3 separate regions of the Homo sapiens genome follow, and regions 2 and 3 are each linked to region 1. Evidence: fine-mapped expression QTL. A gene starts in region 1. Each other region holds a variant in brackets. All regions are shown on one strand. Distances are from middle to middle. Region 1 holds the start of DHRS7 (dehydrogenase/reductase 7). Region 2 has its middle 25 kb from the start of DHRS7. Region 3 overlaps PCNX4 (pecanex 4).

The links. PIP is the estimated chance that this variant, and not a neighbour inherited with it, causes the effect. A credible set is the group of variants that fine-mapping cannot tell apart.
Region 2: its variant is the best candidate, but not a certain one, in a credible set for the expression of DHRS7 in fibroblasts (GTEx, PIP 0.71).
Region 3: its variant is the best candidate, but not a certain one, in a credible set for the expression of DHRS7 in minor salivary gland (GTEx, PIP 0.59).

What each region holds. Positions count from the first base shown.
Region 1 is chr14:60,164,045-60,166,811 of GRCh38, forward strand. It overlaps DHRS7 (dehydrogenase/reductase 7), which reads right to left and starts at 1,354. Exons shown (of 7, transcript NM_016029.4): 1 at 1,133-1,354. The coding sequence starts at 1,265. RefSeq lists enhancers at 818-877, 1,068-1,117 and a silencer at 1,318-1,587.
Region 2 is chr14:60,189,015-60,191,781 of GRCh38, forward strand. No RefSeq gene overlaps it. Among named protein-coding and RNA genes, the nearest start is that of DHRS7, 25 kb to the left of the region's middle. RefSeq lists an enhancer at 886-1,005. The variant G/T (reference allele first, on the strand shown) is at 1,394.
Region 3 is chr14:60,141,780-60,144,546 of GRCh38, forward strand. PCNX4 (pecanex 4) reads left to right here. Exons shown (of 11, transcript NM_001330177.2): 11 at 1-2,767. DHRS7 (dehydrogenase/reductase 7) reads right to left here. Exons shown (of 7, transcript NM_016029.4): 7 at 2,340-2,767. Among named protein-coding and RNA genes, the nearest start is that of DHRS7, 22 kb to the right of the region's middle. The variant T/C (reference allele first, on the strand shown) is at 1,267.

The DNA.
Region 1 (2,767 bases):
TTTTCGTGAACTCAATGTCAGTGCTGCACATGCTATACCCAAGAAAACCCAACCAGAAAAATGAAATACTAAGGAATAATATTTTCTCGGGTGGGGTTAAGCTTTGGAGGGGCACAAACCACTGTATTACCAGATTTTTTTTTTTTTTTTTTTTTGTCCACAGGAACCAATTCTCACCTTGGGATCAATATCACCCCCCTCAACGCCCAACCCATAACGCCCCCCCCAAACATAGTCTATCTTTCGAGCTACTATCTCTTCCAAGCAAACTTTGTAACATGCTTTGAGTATTTTTATACCAGAAACTTGGTCCAGGGAAACCCCATTTCCCCAAGTCCTTAAGGATCCAAAGCCTAGCTTTCGGTAGGTCATTTAATTTCTCTGAACATCAGTTTCCCTATCTGGAAAATAAGATTAATAATGCCTACCTTGTAAGAGTTGTTGTAAAAGTTAAATGTTATGTGTGTAAAGCGCTGAGCCAACATACAGCAAATGTACACGATGTCAAATATTAAGCAAGACACAGATAAAGTGAGATAGGCAGTATGCCAATAATGATCTCGCTCCAGCAAACTGCCATTTTTAGTTCTTTCTAGTGTTTGACTAGAATGAGTAAGTAGGTGAAGGACTTCGGATTATCTCAGATTTTATTTCAAAACTGCAGGAGTGGGAAGTGGAGGACAGACTACTTCAGGTAGTAGAACGACCGGGCTTCCGGTACTTACAAAGGAGTTTCCCTTACAAACGCAGGGGGACGCTCACTGTTTCTCAAAGTATCGTCCTCTGAGACAACACCAGAATCCCTTGAGTCCTGCGTAAGATGTCAGAGTCCTCAGGAGCACCGCCGACTCCAGTGCTCTCTTAACAGTTTGGCACTCCCTGGAGAGGTTTCCTAGCCTGAATGGCAAGTCCATGCCATCTTCCGACCAGTACAGAAGACAAAGGGGCTTTTTAGCCCTCGCCTCTTCCTCCCCAACCCGCAGCCCCTGCGTAAGGGGCAGCCGGGCCTTCGGGAAGCTCCACGCAACCCACAAAGGACCCGGGATCACTGCAGAACCCCCGGAGACCCGGACACGCCTCGGCAGCTCCGAGCCCGGCCTCCCACTCGGGAGAGGCTTTGGCCGGTCCTCACCTGGGCGTCGTCCCTGCCACTCGGCCCATAGTAGCGTCAGGTCGCCGTCAGCCCTCAGGAAGCGCAGCAGCTGCACCAAGAGCAGGAGCAGCGCGCACAGCACCAGCAGCCACAGCAGCAGCTCCCAGTTCATTGCGGCCGCGCACGCCCAGCTCGGGGGGAAGAAGACGGCCCGCACCAGAGTCGCGTCGCTGCCCTGCGGGATCGCAGCGCCACCCCTTCGGCCAGCCCAGAGCCGCACTGCCCCGGCTCCGCCCAGGGAGCAGGCCGGGAGGAGGAGCGGCTCGGGCGCGCCGGGCTCAGCACTCGCGGCCCCACTCGCGGTCCTTGGGCGGCCCGCGCCCTCATGCGGCACACCCGGCGGGGCCGGCAGATTGCTTGAATTCAAGTGTCCGAGACCAGCCTGGGCAACATGAGGAAACCCTGTGTCTACCAAAAATAAATAAATAAAATTCCAGTATTTTTAAAGAAGCTGATTCAAACATAAGCTACATATTATACTACGTTATTTCCTCTCTGTACAGGGACACTATCAACGGCCAGGAGACAGATAGAATCATTCTTGCTTGGCCCCTCTTCTCCATTCCTATTCAGAAAGAACATCCCCTTTTCAAGCTTCAGTATCTTTTCATGAGGTCGAGAAAGTGCTGAAGAAAGACTGTGGCTATCACTCAAGACCCCACAAGCCAAGGCAATGGTCCCTCCATGGGGACAAGGTCCTTTTACAATTAGAGAAAAAAAGACTGAAGCCATGTGCTGTGTTGGCACCTTACAACCTGATTCTGACCACACACAAATTTACTCTGGTGTCTGTTTGGCAACCAAAGCCTAGGTTGGTACCAAATCCTCCCCTTACCCAAGCCATTATTCACATCCTAATGTAAACAGCAAATAAAAACAGAGAATGTAATGAAAACACCAAGGTCTTGCCTACTCTAATACACAAAAGAGTAAAATACTGTTTTTGATTAATTTCCGTTTGAAATGACCTTCAAAACATTTAATTGCTTCCCACTAAATACCTACATGTATTTGAGGCATCAATAGTAGCATCTTTCTTGTTTTCAAGCATTTGAAAGCAAGAGGGTTTTCCATTCACAAGCCTCAGAGGGACCCAGTTAGAGTGCATAGAAACTAGGCCATGTATGAGAACGACCTGTGGCCAAATGGAGAAAGTTCTGGGCGTTGATGCAGTAGAACTTTCATCCTCTTCATTTCCTAGAGTACTTTGTGTGCTCTGATGTCAAAGGCTCTTCCTTGGCTGAAACTAAATATGACTTTAAAACAGTCATGGAAATAAAAGAAGCAGTGACTTCCCTCCCCAGTGTTGTTTTCTTTTTCTAGTCTTGCCTGCCAAACTTTTGTTTTTCTTTAAATGTTTTGAAGAATGTTACTTGCAGTAATCAAATTTCCTTAAATAGCTCTTCCTTCTCTTTTTAAATCCTATTATAAACCCCCTACCTGCCTCCCCACCCTCATCCTTCTCTAAAAAGCTTTTTGGGGTTATCTGGACTCAGAGTCATCTTTCCCTAATCTCACCTCTTTTCACAATTACTTCTGAACTATATCTGAAATTGTTTTTTAATTATTTTCAGGGTTAATATAGTATTGTTCCAATGGAACTTTAGAATCCTT
Region 2 (2,767 bases), 25 kb after region 1:
ATGATCAAAAAGTGAAGTTTCCTTCACTTTTGGGCTAATGCCCAAATGCCCTTTGGGAAAGTTCAACTTCTCTTTTATTTGAAAATTAAAATTCTTATCTGATGAACTTCAAAATCTCCATCCAAAGATGAATACAGAGGTTATGAGTTGCTCTAGCTCTCTAAGTGCTACATAAAACAGACGAAGAATAGAATTCCAGGACTCGGCCTTCCCAGTCCGCTATAGACATTATTATAATTCTCCAACTGAAAGCCAAATTCTGGCTATAAATTCTGGCTATGTTACCATTAAGCTGACTTCTCATCCACATTTTCTAATACCAACACTTTCAAAAAGAATTGAAAACATATATGGTTAGTATATAAGCAGAGTATAGCGGCTGAGAGCTGGGATGCTGGCACCCAATGACTTCGATGCAGAATCTTGGCTCTGCCACTTACTAGCTTGTGACCTTGAGACCCTCCACCTCAACCTCTTTGTGCCTGTTTCCTCAACTACCCAGTGGAGATAATAAAAGTGTTCATACCTTAAGGTAGTTATAAGGAATTAATGAGTCAATATTTATAAAGCGCATAGATTGGTATCTAACACACAGTAAGTGCTAAAAAGGTATCTGTTAAACAAAATTATACAATAAATAGAGCAACACAAGGCCTTTGTCCCATTATTACAATCATGAAATGCTCTAGGGGAAAAATGAGAAAACAGGCTTTTTGTTTTTGCTACTGTCACTTCCTTCTTCCAGTCCCTTCTTCCTTTTTCTGTGTCTATTTCATGTCTTCTTTCCAGGTTCCTACCAGGGTGTTAGCAGAGAACAACTGGTGATGCTTAAGGTGCCAGTCTAAGCTTCCTTCGCAGAGGTGCCTTTGAATTTCCCCTGGAGACTCTGAAAAGCTAAAAAGCCCGCAGAACTTAAAGAAGTGAATCTCTAGCCCTGCAGCATAAGTGAGGAGTTGTATTTTCAGAGAGGGGGACCCTCCAGGCCTGGTCTGCACACTCCTCAGGCTGGCCCTGGGGAGAACAGTAATGCAAATTCATACCTTTGAGCTAAAAAATTAAATTTAAAAAATAAGCAGCCTCAAGTTTCTGCAGTCTAGCATATGGCAACTGTGGCACTGTCTTGAAATGAGTCATCTGAAGCCCAAGTTAGAAGCAGACATAATTTCCAGATGTCAAAAAAAATATTTTTCCCTAAACAGAAAAGCAAGCAAGATGGAGTGCAATTTTCAAAACTGCTTATTTTACTAGCTGTTAATGTTTACTCACTTCTGATTTTCCCAAGATTATCCCCTTGTAAGCTGCGGCCTAAATGCATTTAAATTGCCTTTGAATATACCAAGCAATGCTTACTACCATGGAAACAGAACCAAGGATATGCAAGATGACTCCTCTG[G/T]GGCATAATTTGGTGCTCTAGATACTTTTGATTGGTTGCTCCCTGCTCTGTCACCTCTTCTCTGAAATGTAATCATGTTGGTTGGATTTATTTTTATTATCCACAGGAGCACACAATTCACCAAGTAGTGGAAAATGCCATTCATTCATCAAAGTCCTTCCAGAGAGACATGGGCGGCATTAGCGAGCAAATCCTTATGTGTCAGAAAACACGGGCAGATTGCTCCAGAAGGATTTGGGCCTTTGCCCAACAGTCTAGGAGATAACCTGCACCTTTAAAAATGTTATTTGTGTAGGAGAAAGGACTACAGACTGGTGCCCCAAAGAATGCTGCCTAATGCCCTGGTTCTGGAGAATGTAAGTGGATAGTAGTTGTACACTTCTGTATAAATGGTATATGAAATAATAATAATAAGGGATGAAAACAGAAATATCCAATTCCTGGCTTTGTTGTTAAGGTATTTATAAGCTCAATAAAATTACTTAGCTCTGTTTTTTTAATGTAAAATGGCCATTTGTAGAGTGGAGTAGAGAATAGGACTTGGGTTCAGTTTGAGGTCAATGTTTGTAAACTAATGAATCCTTTGGATGAAGGATCTAGGCATAAAGAACAAATAGTATTTCCCTTGCCTGTCTCATCAATCCACAATGAAGATGAGAGAAAAATATCAAGGTCAAGTCTGTTGTTTTTGTTTAAAAAATACCATCTGAGCCGAGAGCATCTATCTTAGCCACTTGAAGGGATAATGTCCTTATGCTTCCTACAAAACTTGATTCATGTAATGTGTACAAACACAAAACAAACAAATACTGTGATTTTTGGATTCATATTTCCTTCTCTTTCTGGAGTGCCTTGAAATTCTCTGGGCATATGTCAATGCATGGGAACAGAGACCAGCTGCTTCTTGGAATAAACAATATCACAGCAATGAAAAGATGCAAAGGCCAGAGTTGGACAAGCTGAGGCTACCTGACCTTCACTCTGCACAGAAATGATTGTGGCATTTAGATGTTGATAGATGTTGAAATATTAAAACATTGACAACTAAGTTTAAGCTCTATAGTACAGAAAAGTTCCTGTATATCCCTAAGAAATATATTAATAAATATATTTACAGATATTTCTAACAGAAAAATTGGCAAGGAAGGTGGACTGATCATTTATGTAAATGAATATAAAATTAGTTCATAAAAACTTGAGGGGAATTTAATTAATAATCAGAAAAATTAAAAAACTATTTTATAACTGATTCGCAAAACAATTTAATCATTTAATGCTGGCAGAGTTATGGAAAGTGAGGCAGACATATGTCATGTTTGTGGCCAACGGCATCTTTTGAACAATGTTCTTATATTTGGAGAAGTTCTTATGAGT
Region 3 (2,767 bases), 22 kb before region 1:
ATGGACATTTGTTGGTTCCAGTTTTGGGCTATTATGTAAAGCTGCTATGAGCATTCATTTACAAGTCTTTATGTGGACATAAGCTTTCATTTCTCTTGGGCAAATACCTAGGACTGGGATGGCTAAATCATATGATAAGTGTATATTTAAATTTTTAAGGAACTGCTAAAAGTCTTTTTCAAGTTAATTGTACCTTTTGACATTCCCGCCAGCAGTTTATGTGTACAAAATGTATAATTACATTTATGTAAAACTATAAAATGCAAACTAATCTATAATAATGCAAGCACATCATTGGTTGCCTGGAATGGGGTGGGCGAGGGGAAATGATTACAAAAGGGCAAAGGGAAACTTCTGGGGCTGATATATGTGTTTACTCTCTTGATTGTGGTTATGGTTCACAAGTGTAGCCATATGGCAAAACTTAACAAATTGTACACTTTAAATATATGCAGTTTATCATACATCAATTATACCTCAGTAAAGGTGTCAGAAATAACAGGATATTTATATTTAAATCTACCTTTGAATTACCGATTGTGACTGAGGTCTCATGTGGCTTACTGGTGAATCCAGTAGTTGAGGAAACGAAAGCCGTCACTTCTGCTAACTCTTTTACCAACTCACCTGCTGTCACCTTACACAACCCCAACTGTGTTTCAGCTTTGGAGTAATGAACACACCATTTTCTTCCTACTTAAAAGTCCACTCAGGATAATGATTAAGAAATACATTGATGCCGAGTAATAAATACTTTAAAAAAAGTTAAATGTGAACATTTGGCTTTCACAGCTCTTGACTGTCTTTGGCGAACCTTGACATAAAGCTGCCTTTTCCATCTTGGGCTGCTGACAAAAAAGCCTAAGAAAGAAAGAGGGTGTGTACAGAAAATTACATGCCATAGAAAAATACCATACACAGGCCGGGAGCGGTGGCACTTTGGGAGGCCAGGGCGGGTGGATCATTTGAGGTCAGGAGTTTGAGACCAGCCTGGCCAACATGGTGAAACCCCCGTCTCTACTAAAAATACAAAACTTAGCCGGGCATGGTGGTGCACACCTGTAGTCCCAGCTACTTGGGAGGTTGAGGCAGGAGGATCGCTTGAACCCAGGAGGCAGAGATTGCGGTGAACTGAGATAGTGCCACTGTACTCTAGCCTGGGCGACACAGTAAGACTCCATCTCCAAAAGAAAGAAAGAAAGAAAGAAAAAAATGCCATACAGATGAATCTTTAAAGATTTTAATTTATATATACCTCTTCTACCA[T/C]TCATTGGCTGGAGTAGTTGAACAGACATCAGCAGGCACAATGCTAGGCAGGCACTGGAGATTCAGTGATGAATAAAACAAAACTGACCTGGAACCTGGCCTCCTGAAGCTTCTCTTCATCTGTCTAAATTCCTTTCTTTCAAGGCCCAGTGCAAGTGACACCTTCATCAGGAAGGGCTTCCACATGATTCTATCTGCAAATCTCCCTTTTCTGAACTATTATGCTTATAGTCTGTACCAGGCCACATGACATATGTTATTTTGTGGCATTCTAGAATTATTCCAATCTTTTCATTCTTATAATTGGTGTGTTGTATTCAATAAATAATGTTGTTATTCCAGTTTTCATCACTGGTCACGCAAGAGTCCTCTCTTTATTATATTTTATCCCCATAGTTCACCCCGTTTCCTCCCCATCCTAAGTAACTATTACCATACCTAAATATATATCTAATTAGGTTGTATGTTTTCTTGCAAAATGAGCACTATCTTCTGTGCACATATATTTGTGTATGTGAACAGTATTGTGTTAGCGTTGCTTCTTTATTTCTTCACTTATGACTATGCCTCTAGTACATATCCATGTTGTTATGTATGCATTTATTCCATTGCTTCTACCCGCTATACCTCATCGTGTACCTCTACCACATGTCATCTTCCCCCTTTTCCAAGGACAGCCACTTGGGTGGCTTCCAACTTGCCCAACAACTATTCTACAGTTATTTTATGTATGTTACTTTGGCTCCAGCTCAATTGTGAACTGCTTGTAGATAAGGACCATGTTTTTCTTTACCTGTTACTCCTGCTGATTTCCTATTAGTGCCTGTGCATGTTTTCTGCTGTAAGGTGTTAAATGTTAAAGTAAAATTAATAATAGTAGAAGTAAGGAGTTGCCAGTGGAATCTTCCTGAGCTGAATCTAATCATGGCTTTACCCCTTACTAGCTTTGTGACCTTGACCTTGGAAAAGTAAAACCTTGTTGGTCTTTCTTCATCTATCAAGGTAGGTAATACCATCTATCTTAGTGGGCTGTTATGAGGAATGAGTTAATTAACTAATACTAAGCACTCCAGTACAGTAGAAGACATACAACAGGTGTTTAATGAATAATAGGTGCAATGAATCCTACCTGCTGCTTCAAATTACAGCCATCTGTACCTGTCAACTTTTCTAAGAGTATAAGCATCTTGGAGGTAAGGTCATTTCAAATACTTCTTTATATCTGGTCATTACCCAGCACTCTGCTTTGTGTGAAATATTCTATACATTTATGTTGCTATGGTTTGGATGTTTTTGTCCCCTCCAAAATTCATGTCGAAACTTAATCCCCAAAGCAACAGTATTAAAGGATGTGGCCTTTAAGAGGTGACTGAGTAATGAATGAGATTAAATGCTCTTTTGAAAGCATTTTGCTCCTCTTTCCCTTCTGTCCCTTCCACCATGTGAGGACATACATTCCTCCACTGTGGAGGATGCAGCAATGAGGTGCCATCTTGGAAGC